5 linked regions of the Homo sapiens genome follow. The protein of the gene in region 1 purifies or fractionates together with the protein of each later gene. This does not show direct contact. Each region holds a gene or a part of one and is shown in the gene's direction. Other genes may lie near its edges. The genes, in order: GLG1, CD44, OCRL, CLGN and HADHB.

Region 1 (5,097 bases):
AATTTTTGTATTTTTAGTAGAGACAGGGTTTCACCATGTTGGCCAGGATGGTCTCGATCTCCTGACCTTGTGATCTGCCAGCCTCGGGCTCCCAAAGTGCTGAGATTAGTGGTGTGAGCCACCACCCCCACCCTATTTTCTTTTTCTTTAAAGACAGCGAAAGGAAATTTCATTCTGCTTAGTCTGGGAGTTAATTAAATCTGATCTATGTGTTTGAAAGAGCATAACTTAAAGAAGTAAACTAGTTAGGCACATTTGAAGAAACATGTATAGAATATGTTTTGTATTTGCTGTTCAGTAAGTAGAACTATTTGATAGTGAAATAGATATATGTACTTTTCTGTCCCTTTGCATGCAAATGCAGGGAACATTTTCCTATCCGTACCCATTATTGGAATTATGAAAAGGCAGAGCATATGAGTACAGTTGTTCCTTGGTATCACTGGAGGATGGTTCCAGGCCTCCTGCAGATATTGAAATCCAAGGACGCTCAAGTACCTTATACCGTATAAAATGGTGTCGTATTTCCATATCATCTGTGCACACCCTTCCGAATTCTTGTCTTCTCTAAAATACTTGTGATACCTAGTACAGTGCCTACATATCAGTTCATTCATGTGGATTCACTGTAGTACTTGGCATATGTCAAACTTAACTTTTGCTTTTTGGAACCTTATGGAACTTTTCTTTCTGAAAAAAAATTTTTTATTATGGAGACAGGGTCTCGCTCTGTCATCCAGGCTGGAGTGCAGTGGTGCAGTCATAGCTCACTGCAGCCTCAGTCTTCTGGGTTTGAGAGTTCACTGAAGCCTCCACATTCCGGGTTCAAGTGATCTTCCCAGCTGGGCTTTCCAAAGTGCTGGGATTAGAGTTGTGAGCCACTGTGCCTGGCCTTGGGATTCTTTTTTTTTTTTTTTAACGCTCTCGGATGAGTCATGCTTTTAAAAAGGCCAAGTATATCATGGGTCCACTATGAAATAATAGATGTAATAGCCAGTAATGGTGTGTTAGTAGTCCTAGTTGTGTGTGTATAATTATTAGTAGTTCAAGTTATTTAAATAAAAACAAAAAATTAGAAAGTGTAAGGCAGAAAAGAAAAAATATTCCCTGGGCTGTTCTAGTAGGTGGAGTAATAATACCAAAGAAAGAGAAGATACTGTTGCTTAGTATGTGATAAGGAAGGCATGCTTGATGTTGTCAGTCATTTTAAAATACTTTACTTATTCTTGGTTGAAATGGCCAGTAGCACTTTTTTTTTTTCCACTAGTGTCTTGTATTTCGAAGTTTCAGATGGAGACCTTGGTTCCTTAGAAGTTTGTGGTGTTCAGCCGGGCGCAGTGGCTCACACTTGAAATCCTAGCCCTTTGGGAGGCTGAGGCAGGAGGATTGCTTGAGCTAGGAGTTCAGTACCAGCCTGGCAACATAGTGAGACACCGTCTCTAATAAAAAGTTTGTGATGTTCATAGATTAGATTTTCTTTTTTTTTTTTTTTTGAGACGGAGTCTTATTCTGTTGCCAGGCTGGAGTGCAGTGGTGTGATCTCGGCTCACTGCAACCTCTGACTCCCTGGTTCAAGCAGTTCTTCTGCCTCAGCGTCCCAAGTAGCTGGGATTACAGGCACGCACCACCTCGCCCAGCTAATTTTTGTATTTTTAGTAGAGACAGAGTTTCACCATGTTGGCCAGGATAGTCTTGATCTCCTGACCTCATGATCTGCCCACCTTGGTCTCCCAAAGTGCTGGGATTACAGTCATGAGCTATTGCGCCTGGCTGCTGCTGCTGCTGCTGCTGTTGTTGTTGTTGTTGTTGTTTGAGACGAAGTCTTGCCCTGTTGCTCAGGCTGGAGTGCAGTGGCACAATCTTGGCTCACTGCAACCTCTGCCTTCTGGGTTCAAGTGATTCTCCTGTCTCAGCCTCTTCATCACCTTGGCCAGGCTGGTCTTGAACTCCTCACCTTAGGTGATCTGCCTGCGTCGGCCTCCCAAACTGCTGGATTACAGGCATGAGCCATTGTGCGTGCCCCATAGATTTTCTTACACAGAAGTAGAGAGAATAGGGTAATGAGTCCCTGGGTATACATCACCCAGCTTCAACTGTTCCCACCCTTTTTTTTTTTTGAGAGACAGAGTCTCACTCTGTCACCCAGGCTGGAGTGCAGGGGCACGATCTTGGCTCACTGCAACCTCAGCCTCCCGAGTTCAAGCGATTTTCCTGCTTCAGCCTCCCAAGTAGCTGGGACTACAGGCATCCGCCACCACACCCGGCTAATTTTTGTATTTTTTAGTAGAGACAGGGTTTCACTATATTGGCCAGGCTAGTCTCGAACTCCTGACCTCGTGATCTGCCCGCCTCGGCCTCCCAAAGTGCTGGGATTACAGGCGTGAGTCACCGCGCCCAGCCCCGCCCTTTTATTTTTAGGGCACAGGGTTGGGAGGCTGGCATATTTAAAAGCAAATCCCAGATACTGTCATTTCAAATACTTCAAGCATGTCTGTGATAAATACTTTTTAAAAACTAGAAGGTTTTTTTTGTTTGTTTTTGTATTTAAATGTATAATCTTTCTTTTGCAAGTAATTCTGACACTAAAAAGAAAAACATAAAAAAATTCTTTCTTGCCACCTTTTCTTGATATATCAGTCTCAGATTATAAATTTGTAGCCATGCTCTAAGCTTTGCACAGAGTGAATGCTTTGTAAATATTTAAATAAACTAATTTAGGTATTGAACAGGAATTAACATTTCAGTGTTGCAAACCATAAACCCCCTTTTAGACTCATAGGTAAATATTTTTATACTCTGCTTTTAACCTTTCACTTAACTGTATACTTGAGATAGTGGACTACACCATCTCTATTGTCTCACTGTTGATAATGACTATCATTATCAATGATAATGATAATGAGGTGCTAGTGCTAGTGCTAGTGTTATTCTTTTAGCAGAGAAATAGGCTCAAAGAGCTAAAGTAAGTTGTCTGATGTTATATCCTAAGTGGTAGAGCTGGTGTTCAGGAAGTCCTTTTTGACTTAAAAGACCATACTCTTTCTAATGTACCATGGGTGGTTGTAGCTAAGGACATTAGTCTGTGACTGTTGAGAATGCCATAGGTTTATAAATGTATGCTAAATGGGACACAAGAACAACTGAGTTGTAACAGTGCATTGAAGTATTTGTAGATTTCTCAGGCAAATGCGTTATCACCCAACGCTAATTTAATTAGTCTGAGTGCATCATAAACCGAATTTCTGCTTTATGAAAAGAGTTTCAAATCCCAACTCACCTTAAGCAGGATTTGTACTAGAACACTGGAAGCATTTAGTTGTATTTCCTTGATATTTATATTGAATCCATGGAACATCACAAAAAGTGAACTGAGACTAGAGCTGTCAGTGCCATTAACTAACAAATGACTGTAAGCATTTTCTCTCTCTGCTTCCTGATGTGTTAAATGAGTAGTTGGGGTATACTTTTTTTTTTTTTTAATTTTAAGAGAGACAAGGTCTTGCCGGGTTGCCCAGGTTGGTCTCTAACTCCTGAGCTCAACCGACCCACCCTCCTCTGCCTCCCGGATGCTGAGGTTACAGGCGGAGCCACCACACCCTGCCCCTACAGTACGGTTTCTAAGATCTCTGCTGTCTAACTTATATGAGTCGTTTCCTGTATATATTCTCTGGGTATGTATATATTGTAAAGTTTCTAGGATTATATATGTACCAGTTCCTGATTCCATATTCATTCATGGAGGGAATCAGTGACAATGAATAATTCAAACAGCAATTAATCCAAACATTGTTTGGCTTTAGGATATATTATGATTGTTTTGTTTGAGCCAATATGGAATTTCCTCCTATGCTGTCTGTCTGGTTGGAAGCAATCTAACCACATAATCAAGTCATTATTGATCTTCTATTATACACCTATCATTGTGGAAGGACACTAGTACTTTAAGACACCACCATTGCTTACAGTTGGTTTGATAAGTGAGATTGTTGTGATCGAGAAGCGATTATATAAGAGTGTTAATCACTTGATGTCATACAGATAGTAAATTATTTTAGGGCAGTGTAATAAGACAAAATTAGGATTTAGATTTGGGTGGAACACAGCTCTGCTATTCTTAGCTTGAAATTTCTGTCACTGTTTTTTTTTGTTTTTTTTTTTTTTTTTTTTTTTGAGGTGGAATCTTTCTCAGTCGCCCAGATTGGAGTGCAATGGCGTATTCTTGGCTCACTGCAACCTCTGCCTCCTGGGTTCAAGTGATTTTTCTGCCTCAGCCTCCCGAGTAGCTGGGACTGCAGACATGCGCTACCACACCCGGCTAATTTTTGTATTTTTAGTAAAACGGGGGTTTCGCCACACTGGCCAGGCTGGTCTTGAACCTCTGACCTCAAGTGATCTGCCTGTCTTGGCCTCCCAAAGTGCTAGGATTACAGGTGTAAACCAGTGCACCCGGCCTCTTTTCTTAAGCAAGGACTGTCTACTTTAGCTTTGTCCTTGTTCTTTTTTTTCTTTGAAAGTCTTACTCTATCTCCCAGGCTGGCTGGAGTGCAGTGGCATGATCATGGCTCACTGCAACCTCAAACTCCTGGGCTCAAGCTCTCCTCCCACTTCAGCCTCCCGAGTAGCTGGGACTATAGGTACACAACACCACTTAGCCTTGTTCTAAGCGGAAATATACGTGAACTCATGAATTTGATGTGGTAGGTATACTTCTCTAATATATATGAAACTAAATATATGACTATAAAATATAAGTACCAACACATACCACCTGAAATCATCTTGCATATTACCAATAGCACATGCTTCAGAAAGCACTAACACTGGATTATCTTTCTCTGTTGTTTTTTTGTTTTGTTTTGCTTTTGGTTAAGACGGAGTCTCGCACTGTCACCCAGGCTGGAGTGCAGTGGCGCGATCTCACCTCACTGCAACCTTTGTCTCCTGTATTCAAGCGATTCTCCTGGCTCCACCTCTCTAGTAGCAGGGATTACAGGCACCAGCCACCATGCCTGGCTAATTTTTTTTTTGTTTTTTTTTTGAGACAGAGTCTAGCTCTGTCACCCAGGCTGGAGTGCAGTGGCGCGATCTCGGCTCACT
Region 2 (5,097 bases), on another chromosome or scaffold:
GGCCCTGATAAAATATCGCTGTCTGTTGTATAAAGGAATCTACTCTATAATGTGGGTCCAGACTTTACAATATGATTCTGCAAAGTCTGGCTGTGAGAAAGCATTTTGTCAGAACTCCAGTGTTTGAAGAAATAGAGCCAGACATTATGTGAAAAGTGACACCTGTCTGATGTCATTTGGCCTTTTGGCCATGCCTGTTCAGTAATTTGTTTTTGAGTATAAAAAAGGTATCTTCTCTATTCTTGAATTGTGAGATTGTGGAAATTGGAATCCAGTCTTATCATCATCTCTAAGTGATACCAGATAACTTGGCTTTGCAAGCTCCCATGCAGGATTCTTTTGTCTGTGTGACATAAGTATTAAAATGTGTCCTGCCTTATAAAGAATGTGAATTCCATATTCTCACTTGGTATCAGTGAGAAATATTCCCATATTTCTATTTGCAACATAGAAGATAATGCATCATGTCCTTCTGGGGCATGGCAAGTTCTAAATGAATTCCTGGCAGAGCAATGGATTCTGTGATTGTCTATGTGGTGTAGTTGTTGCTAAGAGGATGCTATTGTAATCTTTTCTACCTATACTTCTTCATTGGCTCAGAATGAAGCAAGGCATGTGCTGCTTTCTTATATGTCATTTATGCCATAAATCCCATTGTTAGAAGGTAATGCTTCTAACGGATTCCATTCATGCTTTTGAGATAAATGGCATTGACTTTCATATTGATCACATGGAAAGCTGTTACCTGATTCCTTTCCTGAGATCACTTCCAGCCTAATGTGCATTTGGCTGGAATATGGTTGTCTCAGAATAACATCATGCACTCGGGCTTTTATACTTCTGCCTTTAGGGGACTGTGGCAGCATGGCATGGGTCAAGAAGTACTTCTCCTTCATCTTCCTTTGATGTCGGTAACTCATCCTTTCTGCACTGCGGGAGTTGTTAATGCTTTTGTGTCCTCCAGTTCACATGCTGATTGCTAAGAAGAAAATGAGCATGAGTGAACCCAAAGCTGCTGAAACATTCTGCGTTTATGCAACTTCCTTGCCCTCTATACAAGGAAGATGGTTTCATTGTCTTGTCTAGAGAATAAAGTCTTTTTTAAAAATAAAATCGGTGTATCCCTGACCAAGCGTCCATTAACACTTTGACAATTGCTCAAACTGCATGGTCACAGCAGCCTCAGCTCATACCAGCCATCCAATGCAAGGAAGGACAACACCAAGCCCAGAGGACAGTTCCTGGACTGATTTCTTCAACCCAATCTCACACCCCATGGGACGAGGTCATCAAGCAGGAAGAAGGATGGGTAATAGCCTCTGAGATTTTTATATATTATGTTTTTTGAAATCCACTGAGTGACTGCTGACTATTTTTCTAGAAATATGCCCTTGGTTTTAGACCAAACTACTTTCCTGAAGGACCTGAGGTTCTTCAAAAATTAGTTTTCTTGGTAGGAGTGATACTCATATTCACCTGAATATGAAGTTCTGAGCTGAAAGTAAGGAATTTAGCAGGAGGGTTGGCAAAAGAAAAAACTTATTGTCAAAATATATCTGTGTGAGGCAGTAAGTAATAGATATGAAATGAATGTTGCCAACAATAAACGCTAAAGAAATTCTGAGAACCCCTCCCTGCCCACCACAGCATCACAGAAAGGTGAATTGGACTTGGTTTATGAAAAATAAAAAAACCCTGGATAGTCAGAGAAAGGAAGTGGGTGGTGGGGGTTGGTGGGGGGGGCAGTTTTCCTAAGAAGGAGACTCCTGTAAGGAGAAACGTGAAGGAAGAAAAGCCAAGGAATGAATATGTCAGTGAGTGGATCCATTTTTCACAAGGGAAGATGTGTTTGAATGGCTAGGCAGGGGCCATTATGTTGAGTGACTGAAGTACCACAGGCAGACCCAGCACACATGAGTTTGCACATGGCAGCTGGAGCTCTGAGGACACCCATGGGGGAAAACCAAGCCAGGCAAAGATCTTCAGAATCAATATTAATTCTATGTACTGATGAAGAGAAAGAGATTCCATTAAATTAATGAACATGTCAAGGACAATACAATTGGCTTCAACTACACAATGGTATGATGACTCTTGAAGGACTCTACTTATAAGAGGGAAGATGAACAAGAGTCTAGAGCCCATCATCAAGTGGGACTTTTTCTGGGAGAATGTCCATTTGTGGTTTTGATTCAGGTTAGCACTTGCTCTTGTTTGAAATCTGGGATAACAGGGTCACCACATTTTTGTCCTACAAAGATCTTTAATATTTTAGTGTTGAATATTTAGTGTTGAATCTTGAATATTTAGTGTTGAAAGGCTGCAGTGCAGACCTGGGTACCCAGTATTCTGGTGCTTCACTGGGACTGATTAAATCTCCCCCAGAGGCAGTGATGTGGATAGACTTTGACTGAATTGACAGCCAGAAATATCGATGGGGTTTATGAATTGTTTGGCCTCTGTTTCACTCAAGACTTCTTATTTCAGCAGAGTAGATCTGTGATAACTGTTAAAAACAACATTTACAAGTATTTCAGTGAAATTTCTGCACTACTCAACATTGTACATGTTAAATTTTAAAGACCGCTTATACTTGGGTTTTTGGGAAGAATAATTCAATGACGTCCACTGCTTCTTATTTCTTGCCCCTGTATACTTTCTGTAACTCCACCTAGGTGGTCTTGGATGACGATTCTGTTTATTTGCATATTCACTTTGTGAAGAAAAAAAGACTAAAGGGGGGAAGAGGGCTATTTTTAAAAGTCCCTTTGGTTGGTAAGGGGGAGGGGATAAAATGGTGCCTGAGCCAGCACACTTTGTCTTTTCTCCATGTGTCAGATTGCATGTTTCTATAAAAAAGGCAATGTTTCTGTCTCTCTGCAAGATTTGGGTGTTCCATCATGCACTCATGTGGAGTCCTTCCAGACTCAGCAAAAACAAACACACAGCATAGCTTTCATATAACTCGGCCCTTCAAGGAAAGCCAGTTACTTGTTGTGGTGCTCTTTGATGAAACAATAATCTATCTCAGTTCGGGAGATATAGTCAGTATGTGCTTTCTTTCCTCTTGGCCAGATGTGAATATTTAAAAAAATCAGCTGTAGACCATAAGCCACCTTCAGGTAGTGGTTTGGGAAATCAAGCAATAACACTAATATTGATTCCTTCAGATATGGACTCCAGTCATAGTATAACGCTTCAGCCTACTGCAAATCCAAACACAGGTTTGGTGGAAGATTTGGACAGGACAGGACCTCTTTCAATGACAACGCGTAAGAATAACGATGCTCAGCCACTTTATTGACTTGTATTCCTGCTTCATCTCTTACTCGCTATTGGCCAAGATGCAGAGCTTTGGTGGTGGAATGGTGCTATGTGGCTTACTTCAGCCCAGAGTGTGAAACTGTCTTCATTGTCTGTATTTCTTGTGGAGGTCTCTCAACCTGATTTTCCCTTCATTTCTTTGTGCCTTCCAGATTTAATGACTTTGTGTTTTAAGAAAAAGTAGGACTCTATTCAACTCCATTTTCATTCTCTAAGTAGTTATGTCAGTGAAACACATGCCCACTTCCAGGATAGTGATTTCTCTATGTTTTAACTGACCATTTCCTTTCAATGTCCATCTTTCCTCCAGCCAGTGCAGAAGAGGGGTAGGATTGCTTGCATGGTTGTAAAAAGACATTTTTGGGGCCAGATAATCCTAGAGATCACATCAGTTCTCAGAGGAGAGGCAAGGCATGTTATTGACAATCAACAAAGGTGGCGGGATCCCTGGAACAACAACAACAACAAAACATTGCTAGTATCTCTTTCTATCACTAAGAAATGTTCAAATTCTAGTAGCCTTAATTTCTACTCTATGTGCAGGGATGTCCTAGAGATCAGCCTAAAGTCGTTCATAATTTCTTTGAGGAATACAAAAGAAATCTAGAATTAAGAAGGTCCCATTTTACTGCTTGCCACACATAATGGGCAGAGTCCTTCATATGAGCCCTTTAGGCAAAGGAAAAAAATCAGCAAGCATGTATTGATGGTCAGCAATGTAAATAGCACAGCGTTAAGCATCAAAGGAGATGCAAATAAGCCTATGAATGGTCCTTGCCAAAGAAGGACTTATATTTCCGTTTTATGTCACTGTTGGCTTTTGTTCTGACATTGGGTTTGGGATTTAGTGACTGTCTTTCTCCTGGTTGTAATATTTATTCGGTGGTGGGCATGGCTTATGGGTGTGCTTTATGAAGTTTTTGCACCTGCAACTCAGGTCAGTACCTTTCTTAAAAGAACACAAAAGAAATAAACTTGAAACAGTCCAAGTGATTTTAGATATGGGCAATGGGTCAACCTCCAGTTGATATATGTCACTGAGGGCCCTGTGTTTGCCCAGGCAAGCGTTTCCTTGGTGCAGTGATGAAAATCCCAATGCACAGGTGAAATTAAGAAATAACTTAATAATGGAGTAAAATGGTAACTTTAATTTAATGACCTTTACAAGGTAGCTAAGTATTTCCTTGTATAAATTTGATCTGTGTTACTTGAGTAGGCTATTCTAGATAGGCTTCTTTTTCTTTTGTGGTTACAACTAGACTACAGGCTATCATAGTGTTCATTTTCCCTGCCGTCACATTTCTTGACACACAGTTAGGTGCTTTTGGTTACTGATAGGAGCATTGGGATTCAAATATTCTTTTTTCCATGTCTCTGTGTTCTCTGGTTTTCTGGAGTGACTGGGAGCAATGCTGCAATTGAGCCTGGACAATCCAGGATAGGCAAAGTTTTGGCTCAGTCTTCACCTTGCCACTTTACCTTTGATGATTATACTGAGAAATAAAGGGTCTTCAGAACCAAATAGGGGCAAAATAGAATTCTTCTGTATATTTCTATCAATCAGAGGAGAATTGTGTGCACAAACCTTGGTCTTCCTATGCACCTATCCATCTGACTCTACTCTAGCTAGATTTTCCTTGCTAGCAGATAACAGGATTTGTACCGTAGCTTCAAATTAACACTGGATTCATTCCTCATTGAAACAGAGCAGAGTAATTCTCAGAGCTTCTCTACATCACATGAAGGCTTGGAAGAAGATAAAGACCATCCAAC
Region 3 (5,097 bases), on another chromosome or scaffold:
AGATAATAAGGGTTTTTGTTCTAAATTTATGTCAGATAGAAACTACTCTTTTAAAACCACATTTAGTATAAATAATCTGAGAAAGAAAGGACTTGTTAGGCCCTGAAGGAGTTTTCCCTATATCTTCATGGCTGCTATAATTGACACTTTTTTCCTTCCCTCTCTTTTTTCCCCTCTACAGTGGCACCCTCATTAATTTTCTTATCCGTAGTCTATTTGGGTGCCTTCTTTCACATTTTTCTCCATTTTTATCTATTTTCTTCTAATTAATTATTTTATTTTCCTTTTTGTAACTCATTTTACAAAGACAGAAAGAAGAAGAAATGCAGAGGACAAAAAGCTAAAGGTTCAGAAGTGGATTTCCACCATAAAAACTAGGATTTTCATTTCATTTTCTCATGTATTTGTTATTTACACGTGGTAAAGAGTCCAGTTCATCAGTCATTAAATACCTTCTGTCTGTGAAGTCTGATGTTACTGTCACCAGTAGAGTGACCAGCAAGCCTTATTTGCCTGGGACTTTCCCAGTCTTAGCATTGGAAGTCCTGAGTCCTAGGAAGCCTCTGAGTACCATACAGTGCTGGGACAGTTGGTCACCCTAGACTCCTGAAAGTGCTGGGTTCGCTGTATGTGCACCCTGCATGCGTACCCTGCCTCTTGCCCTTAAGGAGCTTGTAGTTTCCAGAGGCATGAGAAAACAACGTATGTAATAAATCAGTTACAATAAGAATAGAAACAAGTACATAGGTTTCCTGGATCACCACATCCAAACAGTTGATATAGATGATAACTATAGGGCATCAAAAAAGGGGAGACAATATGTTATACACATAATAAATTAAAGCCCTAGCTAACTTTGCTTCTAATTCTCCTAGTTTCCAATTGGCTGTACTTGAACCAAACCACTTCTGAGCATAGGTCATTATATTGTTTTTGTATGTTTATTCAAGACATACATTTTAAACTTGAGGTAATGAGTTGTAGATGCTTCTTTTCAGAATACTTCAAACCAGTATCACTATTTTTAAGTTATTTTGTAAATTTAATCTGTGCTTACGGACAAACCATCCTACTTATTTTATTCCCTTCATGCTTCAGATACTCTGACAATGTGATCTGGACTTGAAATGGTAGGAATTTCCAGCTAAGGAATGGGAGGGAGGGTGATTGAGGAATTTACCTTTTGCTGGAATTTGAAGGTCCCTGCTTTGATGTCTGAGAGATAGATCAGAACGCAGGAAAGTATAATTTTAGTATGTGTCATATCCTTAGATCGGGCTGCTCATGGACACGGTTCATCAGCCTTAGGAGTTCTCACTTCCCTTAGGGTTCCCTCTCTGCATCACCCCTTCCACCACCGTCATACTGACTCTCTTGATCTTGTATGTGTGCTTCCTATATTAGAGATCTGGAATATTTGTGATCTGGACCTTCTTCTGTTAACCTGATAAGTTGAGAATATGATCCCAGTAAAACATTTTATCCCATAGCAGTATATGTATGGATTTCAATTCTTTTTAGGTGGCTGCAAAATTCGGGTTCAGGGGGACTGGATCAGAGAGCGCCGCTTTGAAATCCCTGATGAGGAACACTGTTTGAAGTTCCTCTCAGCTGTCCTTGCTGCTCAGAAAGGTAACTAAAGACTCAGCGATTTTCTTTCTTCTATTTCAACGGGAGTGGAATTCTGACATGCTGATACAGAGGAAAGTGGCCATTGGCAAAATACCTCACCCTTTAAGCCCTGATAGCTGATTTTTTTTTCTTCAGGAGTGAACACAGGGATAGGTTAGGGAAAAAATCTGCCCAGCTTTAAGGACACTAGGCAAGTTTTCAGAATATTCAGTGTCATGGCAAGCACAGCTTACCATAGACTATAATTCTCCTTCTGCCCCTAGATGACCCCAGAGCTGCCCTCATTTCCTTAGTTTCTTCCACTGTATCCAAAAATGGTGCTGGCCCCTGCATATAAGGAATGTTGAAAGAATGGCTTTTGGCTATAGTAAATTCTACTCAGTGAAAGACTTCCCAGTTTCTGACCATGAACCTTATCTCTCTAGCTCAGTCACAGCTTCTTGTTCCAGAGCAAAAGGACTCATCTAGCTGGTACCAGAAATTAGACACTAAGGACAAACCTTCTGTTTTTTCAGGTACTAAAAAGTTCCTGGTTTCCTTGTTGCTATGGTCATTGCAGAGTCAGTAGATTTTGTCAGGCCAAATATGGTGATGTAGATTAAAGCTGATGTCAGACACATTCTCCTGCAGAGTAGTTTTATCAAGTCCAGGCCCACTGACCAGTGTTCACTCCTTATCCTTCCTGTAGCATGGTAGCTGTTCAGGAGCCAGCTTAGCAGGGTGGTAGAAAGTACAAGCTCGAGAGCCAGACAGCCTGGATTTGAATCCCAAGTCAAGAACTTACTAGTTGTACAACCTTCATCAAGTTACTCAACAACTCTGAACTTCCCTTTTCCTTTCTGTAATATGGGAAGATTTTTAATAGTACTTACTTCTTGGAGTTTTTGTGATGATTAAGTGAGATCATGATATAGTCCCTTACTCTCAACCAGGCATTGTGCTCAGTCTTCAATAAATGTTAGCTATTACTAGTCTGTTCCAAGTTCTTATAAACTTCTATTGTTCTAGTTAGTATATCAGTGCTTCAGGGATAGGTATGCTTCTTCGAACTCCAATCCAAGTAATTTCTACCCTTATGATAGTTTTCTGTTTAGTAATACCACTGATCAAATTGTGATCAAATCAAAGCCCTGTTACCCTGGATATGTTGGATGTTAGATTTTTTCCCCGTTTGACTTTGGGGTCTGTGTCTTTCAGGGCTTCTTGGATTTGAAGACAATTTTTCTTCTATGAATTTGGACAAGAAAATAAATTCACAAAATCAGCCTACTGGGATTCATCGGGAACCCCCACCTCCACCCTTTTCAGTGAATAAAATGTAAGTCCCATGTGAAAACATATTTGCCTTGTAGGAGAATTATAGTTTAAACAATTTTACTTTTGAATCTCTCATTTATTTGCTAGGCTTCCACGTGAAAAAGAAGCTTCTAACAAGGAGCAGCCCAAAGTGACCAACACCATGCGGAAGCTCTTTGTACCAAATACCCAATCTGGGCAGCGGGAGGGTCTCATCAAACATATCCTGGCAAAGCGAGAGAAAGAATATGTCAACATTCAGACTTTCAGGTTAGTGTCTCTTTTGCTTCCTGAGTCTAAAAAGTTAGTATATATAACAGACAGTGGCCTGTTGATATTTAAGACATTAGCCTAATTAAGAATCAAAATATGATAAAAAGGAATGGTTGCCTGTTTCAAGCTCCTGTCTCTATGCTGGCCAATAACATGCATATCAGAAATAATGCAGATGCTACAGTTTCCCTTGGATTTTCTTTTTTTGTGTGTGTGGGTCAGGGTCTCTCTTTGTCACCCAGGCTGGAGAGCAGATAGATCATGGCTTACTGTAGCCTCAACCTCTCAGTCGTAAGCAATCCTCCCACGCCAGCCCTGCAAGTAGGTGGAACTACAGGTGCACACCACCACATCCAGCTAATATTTGTGTTTTTTATAGAGACTGGGTTTCACCAGGTTGCCCAGGCTGGTCTCAAATTCCTGAGCTCAGGCAATCCACCCGCCTTGGCCTCACAAAGTGTTAGGATTACAGGCTTGAGCCACCGTGCTTGGCCTTCCCTTGGATTTTCTAACTACTAATAATGCCATGTCTACTAATGTCTCTACTGAGTCCTAGAGAACCAAATCAAGGTCACATGTACTAGAGAATTTTCCCCTAGCACATTCCATAAGCAAGCGTGTTTATATATCTGGCCTGTTAAGTTTTTTTTTTTCAGCCAATATTAGAAAATTAAAGTCCATCATTACCACTAGCTCTTAACTTACTTACTTTGGTAAATAAAGAAAGTTTCACCCAGTCCTCTTGATTGGGAGGTCTATCTTGGGTTCTTTTATCTGTATTATTTTTTATTTCATCTTTTTTCTGGACTTGTGTGTGTATGCTGCATGTGAGGTACCATGTGGCATGTATCGCCAATGCATGAAGCAACACCACATTTCTTTGTTATTCATGAGCAGAATGTACCCTTCTAGTCCAAGATTCTAGTCCCATCTGCTATCCTGTCATACCTCATTTATTCTAATTCAGTCATAACTATATCCCTATGCTAAAACTTGCAGTTCCTCATATCCCCCACTATGCTTATATTTGTGTGTAAACAGTTAAGACAGTCATGAGTTTTCCCTTCTGCTTTCCCCCTTAATACTATGTCTGCCTCATCAGAATTTCCTACACAGATGTCCTTGTAATCCTTCAGGAAGTGAGTTCCTGGAGTCAACTATAGCCCCTTATAGAACATTTATCCATATTTGACTAGCTTACAGCATGAAGATACCTCTTTCCCATCCATAAGCTCTCCTATCAAGTATGAGTTTGGATGGAGCTTAATTGAAAGGAAATGTGGTATAGCAATTACCTTTGCATTTTTTAAAAATAAAGACTTGGTTTCCTTCTGTAGTTTTACTTAATGTAAAATTTAGAGAAAATAAGCCCACTGCCTTTGTGTTCTAGATGCAAAAGATCTTTCTTACATATGTGGCAAAACATTTTGAGGAATTATGTTAGCATATTGTGAACATACCTTTGTATGGAAGCGAAAAGAAAGAACTTCTGTTGGTTTATACTTGATCTTTGTTTTCAAATTATCTTTTCGTATTATGTATTAGATTTTTTGTTGGAACTTGGAATGTGAATGGCCAGTCTCCAGATAGCGGGTTAGAACCTTGGCTGAACTGTGATCCCAATCCTCCTGATATCTACTGCATTGGGTAAAGAACACTTCTGGAATTTCCTTTTGGCTATATGTTTGGTGTTCATTTACATGATGTTTTGCCTTTTTTAAAAAAGACTGTTGGTAAAACCTACTGTAGACTATACACGAGAGTTAACTTGCGGGTCAAATTTGTGAGAACAGAAATGAACAGATACCTAAAATGGTGTAAGGAAGCATCTAATTTTCTTGAAACCCGTAGGAATCTATATATTCTGCATAGAAACTAAGACTTGGGGTCAGTTCT
Region 4 (5,097 bases), on another chromosome or scaffold:
GAAGTAAAGGCCTGGCGCAGTGCTTCACACCTGTAATCCCAGCACTTTGGGAGGCCAAGGTGGGTGGATCACGAGGTCAGGAGATCAAGACCATCCTGTCTAACATGGTGAAACCCTGTCTCTACTAAAAATACAAAAAATTAGCCGGGTGTGGTGGCAGGCGCCTGTAGCCCCAGCTACTCGGGAGGCTGAGGCAGGAGAATGGCGTGAACCCGGGAGGCAGGGCTTGCAGTGAGCCGAGATCATGCCACTGCACTCCAGCCTGGGCAACTGGGCAACAGAGTGAGACTGTCTCAAAAAAAAAATAAATAAATAAATAAAAATAAAATTAAAAAAGGAAGTATGTTAGCTCATTAAAGACTGAGAAGTTCTACATATGAAAACCTGTTTTCAGCATTACTACTGTGTTTCCCAAACACATTTGATCACATAAGTTTATTTTCCCACCTAACAGTAATTGCTATTTCATGGAACAATTTGAGAAATGATACTCTAAAGAAATTAAGGTTACCATATACTCTGCATATGTCCTTGGTTTTCCTATGACTGGAAGTTTAGCAGTAGTCAAGCTGTATGATAAACATTTTGTTGATCCTCTAATCCATTGTGAATCATTTATACTAGGTAAAAGTTAATTATTTGAAAACTCTAAAAGTTTGCAGTATAAGAAATGGACAAGGTGATTGAATCTAGGCATAATGGAACAATGAAACTGTGTTCACATTTATGCAGCCACTGTACAAAATTGTTTTTTCCAATTCTTACCTTTTTACAGAATGCTCTGTCCTGAGATAATCTATTATAAAGCAAAATCTTTTTAATTTTTTTTCTAAAAACAGTGACCTTTAAGTCATATCATGCACCACGTGTTCTACTTATAGTCTTCAAATACTTAAATTCCATGAAAAACAAAATTTTGTCAGCTATTGCTTAAAATAAAGATAAGACTTTGAGGAAAACAAACTGTCCTCTATTTAAAAAATGAAAAAGAACGAAAGAATACCTTCCTTCTGATTATCATAGAAGCATTTTGAGCATGTATTTGCCCCTCATTGGGCATGATATCCTTTAATCATCATAACAATCCTTTGAGGTGTAAGTATGGGCCATGTCTGCATATTATAGATGAGCAAATAGAGACTTAGAGCTTAAATGACTTGCCGTTACCCAAGGAGTCACTAGAGTAAGTGGCAGAATCAAGAATAACTCTCAGGTCATTTTGACTTTAAAGTACATGCTTGTGGCCACTGTTGTAGATAGCTTAAGAAATAAAGCATGGTAAAAAGTATAGGAGAAAATCACCCCTTTCAAATCAGAGATACTTAAAATTTTGTTTCCTTTTTTTTAATACAAAATATGTACACCAATTGAGTTCAAACTGTTAAAATTTTGTATACTATCATGTTTTACCTTCTTGTCACTAAATTTCTTCAGAAACATTTACAACTATAGTCCTTTATTAAAATGATCATTATTTCTGGTTATTTCTCTAGTTTTCATGTCTTTTTGATTTAATTCATTTAATGAAATCATAACCTTTTTTGTTTTTACTGTTTGACAGCCATTTCCTTGTTGATTTTTGTCACATATAATTCGTTAATTTAACAACAAAAAATCTCGTAAGTCTATGCCTCATTGCCATAGCAAGGCTATTTCCTTTTAAAGTTACCAATAAAGAAAAAAAAACTTTGCTGAGAATTACACTGTGTTGTAAATTCATAAGAGACTCTCATGTTCATTCTTTTAGCTGTTATACTAAACAGTGAAAATTTCCCATATCTCCTGGCTGTTTAGGTCTGAAATCCAGCTTATTGACTGAGATTATGAATCTCTTTGCTGGAGCTATTTAATTAAATGTACAACTTATTTAACATGGTAAGGTGTAATGAACTCTAGGTATCTAAGATCATTAGCAATTTCGTAGAAATCTTGCTGTAGCTGTGGTTCTTACGGCCTTTATTTTTTTTTAGTTTATAAAGTGTAAGTATAGTGCTTACCTTATCAGAATTTGAAATTTCCTGTTGTAGTTTTAGTTACAGTATCTTATGCTTAATTTATCAGTTTTGATGGAAAAAAATTTAAACAAATTGATTGGTTTGTCTGCAGTTGATTGTAATCATTCTATTTTTAATATTTTAATGATGTGTCTTGTTTTAGAGTAGTAGAAAAGCGTTTCTGCTTATTTCCTATAGGTTGTAGATATGCTTTATATGAGTTTTCTGATAATGTAAAAAAATTTATACTTACATGAATTGAGAATAATAAGATTATATTTTAAAGAGCAACTAGTAAATTTTATTTATCAGTAGTACGGTTCTTTTTCCCTTTATTCAGATATGAAGTAAATTTTCAAGATGGTATTGATTGTGGAGGTGCATACATTAAACTCCTAGCAGACACTGATGATTTGATTCTGGTATGATATTTTAATATTTAAGAAAACCTTATTAAAGTTAATAAGTATTTTTAAGGAACAAATGATAAAACTGAATATTTTGTCTTCAACTGAAATTGAAAAGAATTGTAGATATCTTTTTTCAATGTGAATTTACATAGCTCTTACAATTCGCCTTCAAGTTTTATATAAAGCTGTGTTACTTGAAGGCATCAATTTTATAATCTTTAACAACATGAAAAAGTTTACCATGTCTGTAGGACAAAAACTACGTGATACTTATAAATTTCTTTTGAAATATAGCTTAGAGTTATTTTCTTTACAGAATAAGACTCTTAAGTTTGTTTAGAGAAGCATAACAAAGCATAGCAGTGAAACAAAATGGCCGAAGAACCAAATTAAAAGGGGTTAGCAACCCACAGAAAGTAACTAATTTTAAAAACTTTTCATGATGAAATAGGTTTATACTTCTAAGAGGTTGTATTAGGACCATTGGAAAGTTGGGGATATTTCTTATAGCCTTCTCCTGTAAAAGGCTGTTTCAGACTTTCTGCATATAACAGAAATACGATAGATGAGACATCAGGGGTATATTTTTCAGAACACTTAGCTGTACATAAGCTATGAAATGTAGATGGGAGACTTTTTCATGTACTACTCATTATTATTAGGATCAAGTGAAGGAGAGGCCATTGGAGTATATGTTGAAGCTCTTGTTTTAGATGAACACTTGAAGGTAGGATGACAAAAAAATCTAATGCCAAGTATTTCTATAAGCACTTTATCTGATTAATTCACTTAATCCTTAGAGAACTCTTATAAGGTAGGTACTATTATCATCTCCATACTTCAGAGGTGATGAAATGGAGGTGCAGAGAGCTTTAAAAAATTTGAGTCAGGGTGACACCCAACTAGTTTAAGAGGCAGTGGTAGGATTTGAACCCCAGTATCTGACTCCATGCCCCATGCTGTTAACCACTATGCCATGCCAAATAAAGAGAAATTCATGTCCTCGTGTCTGTTTTTATGTCTGAATGAATCTCTCTTCATCTTGTGCTCAGAGGGTCATTTTCTGGTATCTTCCTAAGTAATAGTAATGGGTGATAATTTTAGTCTTAAGGCCATAAATATGCTTTCCTCTAATGCCTAATTCTCTCAATAAAAATATTAGTAATATAGATTTACATAGAGAGTTAAAGCATATTATGGTGTTGCTAGAGTATTTTCAGCTTCTGTCCCACATCGTCAGGAAGTAGTGTGTACTTAAAAAAATCTATATTGAAGTAAAATTTGTCATTTTCCCATGTCCTTTATTGTCACTTGTATTAAATAGCTAGCTCTCTGGTGAATTACCATTTAATATATTTTTGTAAACTCTACCCATTGGATAAAATACAGAAATGCATTAAATAGTCTGTGATTCTGGACTAATGCCAACACTCATCTCTCTTTGAAGGAAAACTTTTATGATAAAACATCCTATATCATTATGTTTGGACCAGATAAATGTGGAGAAGATTATAAACTTCATTTTATCTTCAGACATAAACATCCCAAAACTGGAGTTTTCGAAGAGAAACATGCCAAACCTCCAGATGTAGACCTTAAAAAGTTCTTTACAGACAGGAAGACTCATCTTTATACCCTTGGTATACCCTTTTAATTCATTCATGTATTCAAAAATATTTGCTGACTATTGATGTATTCATGGCAAGTGCTTTACAAGAAAACAAATGTGTACCCCATCCTGAAGGAGCTTATCTTTTTCAGAAAATAGGACATGTATAATGACAGCACGGGTAGAAAATAAAGTACCATATAAGAAAGAGAGATGAGGCACAGCTAAGAGTTCACAAGCAATATTACTTCCAGCTTAGAGACTTGGAACAAAGCTAGGAAAGATTATATTTGAACTCGTCTTGAAGTACAGATAGAATGTTGAAGACAGTAGGGTGAAAGGACATTTTAGACGTTGTGACAGTGGTGCTGTAAGAACAGAAAACTAGAAAATAAAAAGGAAGAGGCCAGAACAGAAAACTAAAAAATAAAAAGGAAGAGGCCCTTAATGCCAGACTAAAAAGTTTAGACTTTATTCTGTAGGCAGTTGTGATTATTGTTATGTCCTACCTTGTGTTGGTTGTGGCATGTACTTCGAAAGGAGAAGCATTGAGCAGCCATATATTAATATACTTAAGTAAATAGGAATTTGCATAGATATGGGGGTGAGGGACATCATAAGCAGTTGTTTCTCCCATTCTCAAGTATAATGGCTGTAGAGCTCTGGTCAGCCCACTATCAAAATCAGAGCATATTGGAACCTAATAGGACATTTTGAAATGGCCCTATTGGCTTCCTTTCTCACGTCTCAACTCCACCCAAGATTAAAGTATTTCAATCTTTTTCCCCAAATGCTGCAGTGGTAGAAACATTCATTTTGTCTGCTCGGGCAATGCCCATTTCATCTTCAATATCAGATGTGATATAATAAATATCTTTATGAAATAATTGAAAAAACTAGGCATTTGGGGGAACACCAAGTAAACTGTAGAAATAATGAGAAAATATTACTAGAACAGAATAAATTAATTTTTTGTTATACTTACAACACTTTAAGATGGTATCAAAAAAATTAAATGCTGAAAAAGATTAGCTTGTATTTTGTAACTATAAAAGAGTGAAGCTGACTCGTTATGAGTCCCAAA
Region 5 (3,500 bases), on another chromosome or scaffold:
CTTAAATATGGATGCAAATTTTGATTTATGTTGTAACAATAGGTTAACATTTTTTAATGTTTCTATAAGAGTGTCCTTTTAAGATCTGAGCACTAATCTCAGCACTTTGGGAGGCTGAGGCAGGAGGATCGCTTGAGGCCAGGAGTTCAAGACCAGCCTGGTCAACAGCGTGAGACTTCATCTCTAATTAAAAAAAAAAAAAAGAAAAACAGAGTCTCCTTTTAGATCTTGCTGATATATTTTAGTTCTTACATACATGCCTGTTTTTAAAATTCCTGAATCGTCTGACTTCTGTATAGAATAGCCAACTGTGAATGAATGTCTTAAGAAAATAGGGTGTCCTATTTTTAGTAAAGCATTTAGATGATTTCCCAATTGTCTTTTAAGACTTTAGTTTAAAATTTGATAATATGATAATTATAAAACACTTTCCTTCTAGTGAATAGGTAAGGTTTATATTTCATTTGTTTTTGTAATTTTTAAAGCATATTTCTGTGGAGAAGATATATAAGGCTTGTGGTTCCATAGAGTTAAAAAAATTCATTTTTTTAATAGGAAAAGATACAGTTACCAAAGATAATGGCATCCGTCCTTCCTCACTGGAGCAGATGGCCAAACTAAAACCTGCATTCATCAAGCCCTACGGCACAGTGACAGCTGCAAATTCTTCTTTCTTGGTAACTGTCAATGTTATTTGTATTTAGTAGTGACTTTTCTATTTCTGTACTCTCTGTAGAAAAGCCTAATATAACTTTTTGTGTGTGTTATGAATAGAGGGTTAAAAATATAGTTATTCATTTTAATGTGAAAGTGGAGTCATTAAAAAAAAAATAGAATCACGGTTTTAAGGCCCGAGAAGTCACCTAATCCAGCCACCATTCTGCCACAAAAGCTCTTCCTTTCAGGCACTTAACCAGTCAAAAACTTCTATTGCTTATGGTGGGCCCTGGAAATGAAAAGAATAGACAATTGCAATATAGTGAGATGCTGTGATGGCTGTAAGGCTTAGGTCGAACCCCTGACCCAGATGGGGGGACAGTCAGAGAGTCTTCTTGGAAGAGGTAACACTTGAGCAGCAAATCTTGAAGGAAGAGTAAAAGCCAACTCAGGAAGGATTTTAAAAGGCATTTCAGGCCGGGTGCGGTGGCTCACGCCTGTAATCCCAGCACTTTGGGAGGTTGAGGCAGGCAGATCACCTGAGGTCAGGAGTTCGAGACCAGCCTGAGCAACATGGAGAAACCCCGTCTCTACTAAAAATACAAAATTAGCCAGATGTGGTGGCACATGCCTGTTAATCCCGGCTACTCGGGAGGCTGAGGCAAGAGAATTGCTTGAACCCTGGAGGCGTGGAGGTTGCGGTGAGCCAAGATCGCACCATTGCACTCCAGCCTGCACAAGAGCGAAACTCCCATCTCAAAAAAAAAAAAAAAAAAAAAAAAAAAAGGCATTTTGGACAAAGGGAATAGCAAATGCAAAATCAAGGAAGTATGAGAGCAAGGGGTTCTTTGGGGAAAAGTTAGGTTGGAGCATAAGGTATGAACTGGGAAGTCGCAGAAGACAAGGAAAAGCAGGCAGAAAGAGTAACAGGATACCTCTTCCAGCCCTGATTGTTAGAAAACTGCTTTACACTGACCCCAATATTATTTTCCTGTAAGCATCATGGAACAAATCTACCACTGTTTGTTTTGTGTTTTTTTTTTAACTTATCAACATGTAGCTTCATATCCTTCCATGCTTTTCTGACTCCTCAATTAAACATCTTTATTGATTCTGCTGCTGCTTGTAAGATGTGATTTCTCTTCTCTTACCACCTTGGGTATAGTCTTCTGGATATAGGCCATCTGGTCAGAGTTTCTCTTACAATGTAACTCTCCTACCTGGCCATAAAGTCTTGAAAACATACGCAGATGTTTGACATATTTGCCCATGGTAAATGACTAATTAATGCCTGCTCTTGATAGGCTAGGGGAGTGGAATCTGGAGTAGTTCCAACAGGATGGAACACCACCCTGTTAAGCCCAGGTGGTGAAGAGCTGGTTAGGTTGGTCATTTGCAAAACCGAATTGGATGATAGAGCCATGTGGCATGGACTACACTTGCCAGATCTGAATCCTTTTGATTATTTCCAGGGTATGCTAAAGGTCCAGGTTTATTTAGTGAGAATCAGAGACACAAATCATCAGAGGTGACACATCACAATACATGGATTTTGGGGACTGCATTAGTGCCCCACATTCATTGCAATTTTGCACAATGGCACATTGAACCTGTTATTAATGTAATGTCTGTAAACCATTTATTCCATATGGTCACCTATGTCTCCAGACTTTATGGACACCCTATTGGTGGCTACACAGTCTCTTCAGGGTTGCCGAGTTATAAAAATACGACAGAATGTGGTAGAACTTATTTTGATTTTACAAATTATGAAGAATAGTTTCCTTTTCTTTGGAATTCTGAAGTTTTTGGGGGAGCTTTTCTTCTTTGAAGTATGGTAAAGGACGTTTTTTCAGTAGTACTTCTTTGTCCTCCAGCTTCTCGGTTGTCATTTGGGAAGAAATGTATGGGGTGTATCCAAAGAGGGAAGATTGTGGTTCTAATGTCCTCAGCTGGTTCTCCCATTGGTTTGCTCGTTACAGAATATATAAGTAGAATAAAATGACCTGTAAGCCACGGGCAGAAAGCAGCTGAGAGCCCAGAAAATGTAAAAATAAATAAATAAGAGATATGTTTATTTTGGTTCATATTTTGTGCCACAAGCTAAAAACTTTGGCTTAAATAAGTGTTTAGTGTTTATTATGAGCAGTTCTTTCTTTTTTTTTTTTTTTTTTTTTGAGACAGAGTCTGGCTTTGTCACCCAGGCTGGAATGCAGTGGCACGATCTCAGCTCACTGCAACCTCCGCCTCCCAGGTTCAAGCAATTCTCCTGCCTCAGCCTCAGCCTCCCAAGTAGCTGGGACTACAGGTGTGTGCCACCACACCTGGCTAAGTTTTTCTATTTTTAGTAGAGATGGGGTTTCACCGCGTTAGCCAGGATGGTCTCAATCACCTGCCTCATGATCTGCCCGCCTCAGCCTCCCAAAGTGCTGGGATTACAGGCATACAGGCATGAGCCACCACGCTTGGCCATGAGCATTTATTTCTAAAGTTACCTCTTCTGTTGATTCATTTTGATTATTATGATACTTTTGAACAGCCTTCTCTACCCTCATCCTCCAAAAATGAGTCAGCGTGTGTATGTTTGAATTATGATTTAATGATGGATACAGTGAAGTAAGTGTTGTTATATAGAATCACTGTATAAGTCTAATGAGTTAATAGATTCAGGTACAGATATATAAGATGGCTGGAGAAAGACCTCCAGACAGGCTGAAGAATTTTAACATTGTGCTGGTTAACATTTCAGACTGATGGTGCATCTGCAATGTTAATCATGGCGGAGGAAAAGGCTCTGGCCATGGGTTATAAGCCGAAGGCATATTTGAGGTAAAGTAAATGTT

The links.
Region 2: the proteins of GLG1 (region 1) and CD44 purify together in Homo sapiens (co-immunoprecipitation; one large-scale study listed by IntAct). This does not show direct contact.
Region 3: the proteins of GLG1 (region 1) and OCRL purify together in Homo sapiens (co-immunoprecipitation; one large-scale study listed by IntAct). This does not show direct contact.
Region 4: the proteins of GLG1 (region 1) and CLGN purify together in Homo sapiens (co-immunoprecipitation; one large-scale study listed by IntAct). This does not show direct contact.
Region 5: the proteins of GLG1 (region 1) and HADHB purify together in Homo sapiens (co-immunoprecipitation; one large-scale study listed by IntAct). This does not show direct contact.

Annotation. Positions count from the first base shown.
Region 1 is NC_000016.10:74,599,805-74,604,901, reverse strand, and holds part of GLG1 (Golgi apparatus protein 1 isoform 3 precursor), read left to right. Parts: intron 1-5,097. UniProt on the Homo sapiens protein: Binds fibroblast growth factor and E-selectin (cell-adhesion lectin on endothelial cells mediating the binding of neutrophils).
Region 2 is NC_000011.10:35,204,935-35,210,031, forward strand, and holds part of CD44 (CD44 antigen isoform 1 precursor), read left to right. Parts: intron 1-850; coding exon of another isoform or gene 851-906; exon of another isoform or gene 907-1,113; intron 1,114-1,177; coding exon 1,178-1,309; intron 1,310-3,170; coding exon 3,171-3,272; intron 3,273-4,683; exon of another isoform or gene 4,684-5,030; coding exon 5,031-5,097. UniProt on the Homo sapiens protein: Cell-surface receptor that plays a role in cell-cell interactions, cell adhesion and migration, helping them to sense and respond to changes in the tissue microenvironment.
Region 3 is NC_000023.11:129,555,804-129,560,900, forward strand, and holds part of OCRL (inositol polyphosphate 5-phosphatase OCRL), read left to right. Parts: intron 1-1,521; coding exon 1,522-1,632; intron 1,633-2,057; coding exon 2,058-2,147; intron 2,148-2,829; coding exon 2,830-2,950; intron 2,951-3,036; coding exon 3,037-3,198; intron 3,199-4,746; coding exon 4,747-4,848; intron 4,849-5,097. UniProt on the Homo sapiens protein: Catalyzes the hydrolysis of the 5-position phosphate of phosphatidylinositol 4,5-bisphosphate (PtdIns(4,5)P2) and phosphatidylinositol-3,4,5-bisphosphate (PtdIns(3,4,5)P3), with the greatest catalytic activity towards PtdIns(4,5)P2.
Region 4 is NC_000004.12:140,399,304-140,404,400, reverse strand, and holds part of CLGN (calmegin precursor), read left to right. Parts: intron 1-2,334; coding exon 2,335-2,416; intron 2,417-3,851; coding exon 3,852-4,044; intron 4,045-5,097. UniProt on the Homo sapiens protein: Functions during spermatogenesis as a chaperone for a range of client proteins that are important for sperm adhesion onto the egg zona pellucida and for subsequent penetration of the zona pellucida.
Region 5 is NC_000002.12:26,279,439-26,282,938, forward strand, and holds part of HADHB (trifunctional enzyme subunit beta, mitochondrial isoform 1 precursor), read left to right. Parts: intron 1-555; coding exon 556-677; intron 678-3,406; coding exon 3,407-3,486; intron 3,487-3,500. UniProt on the Homo sapiens protein: Mitochondrial trifunctional enzyme catalyzes the last three of the four reactions of the mitochondrial beta-oxidation pathway.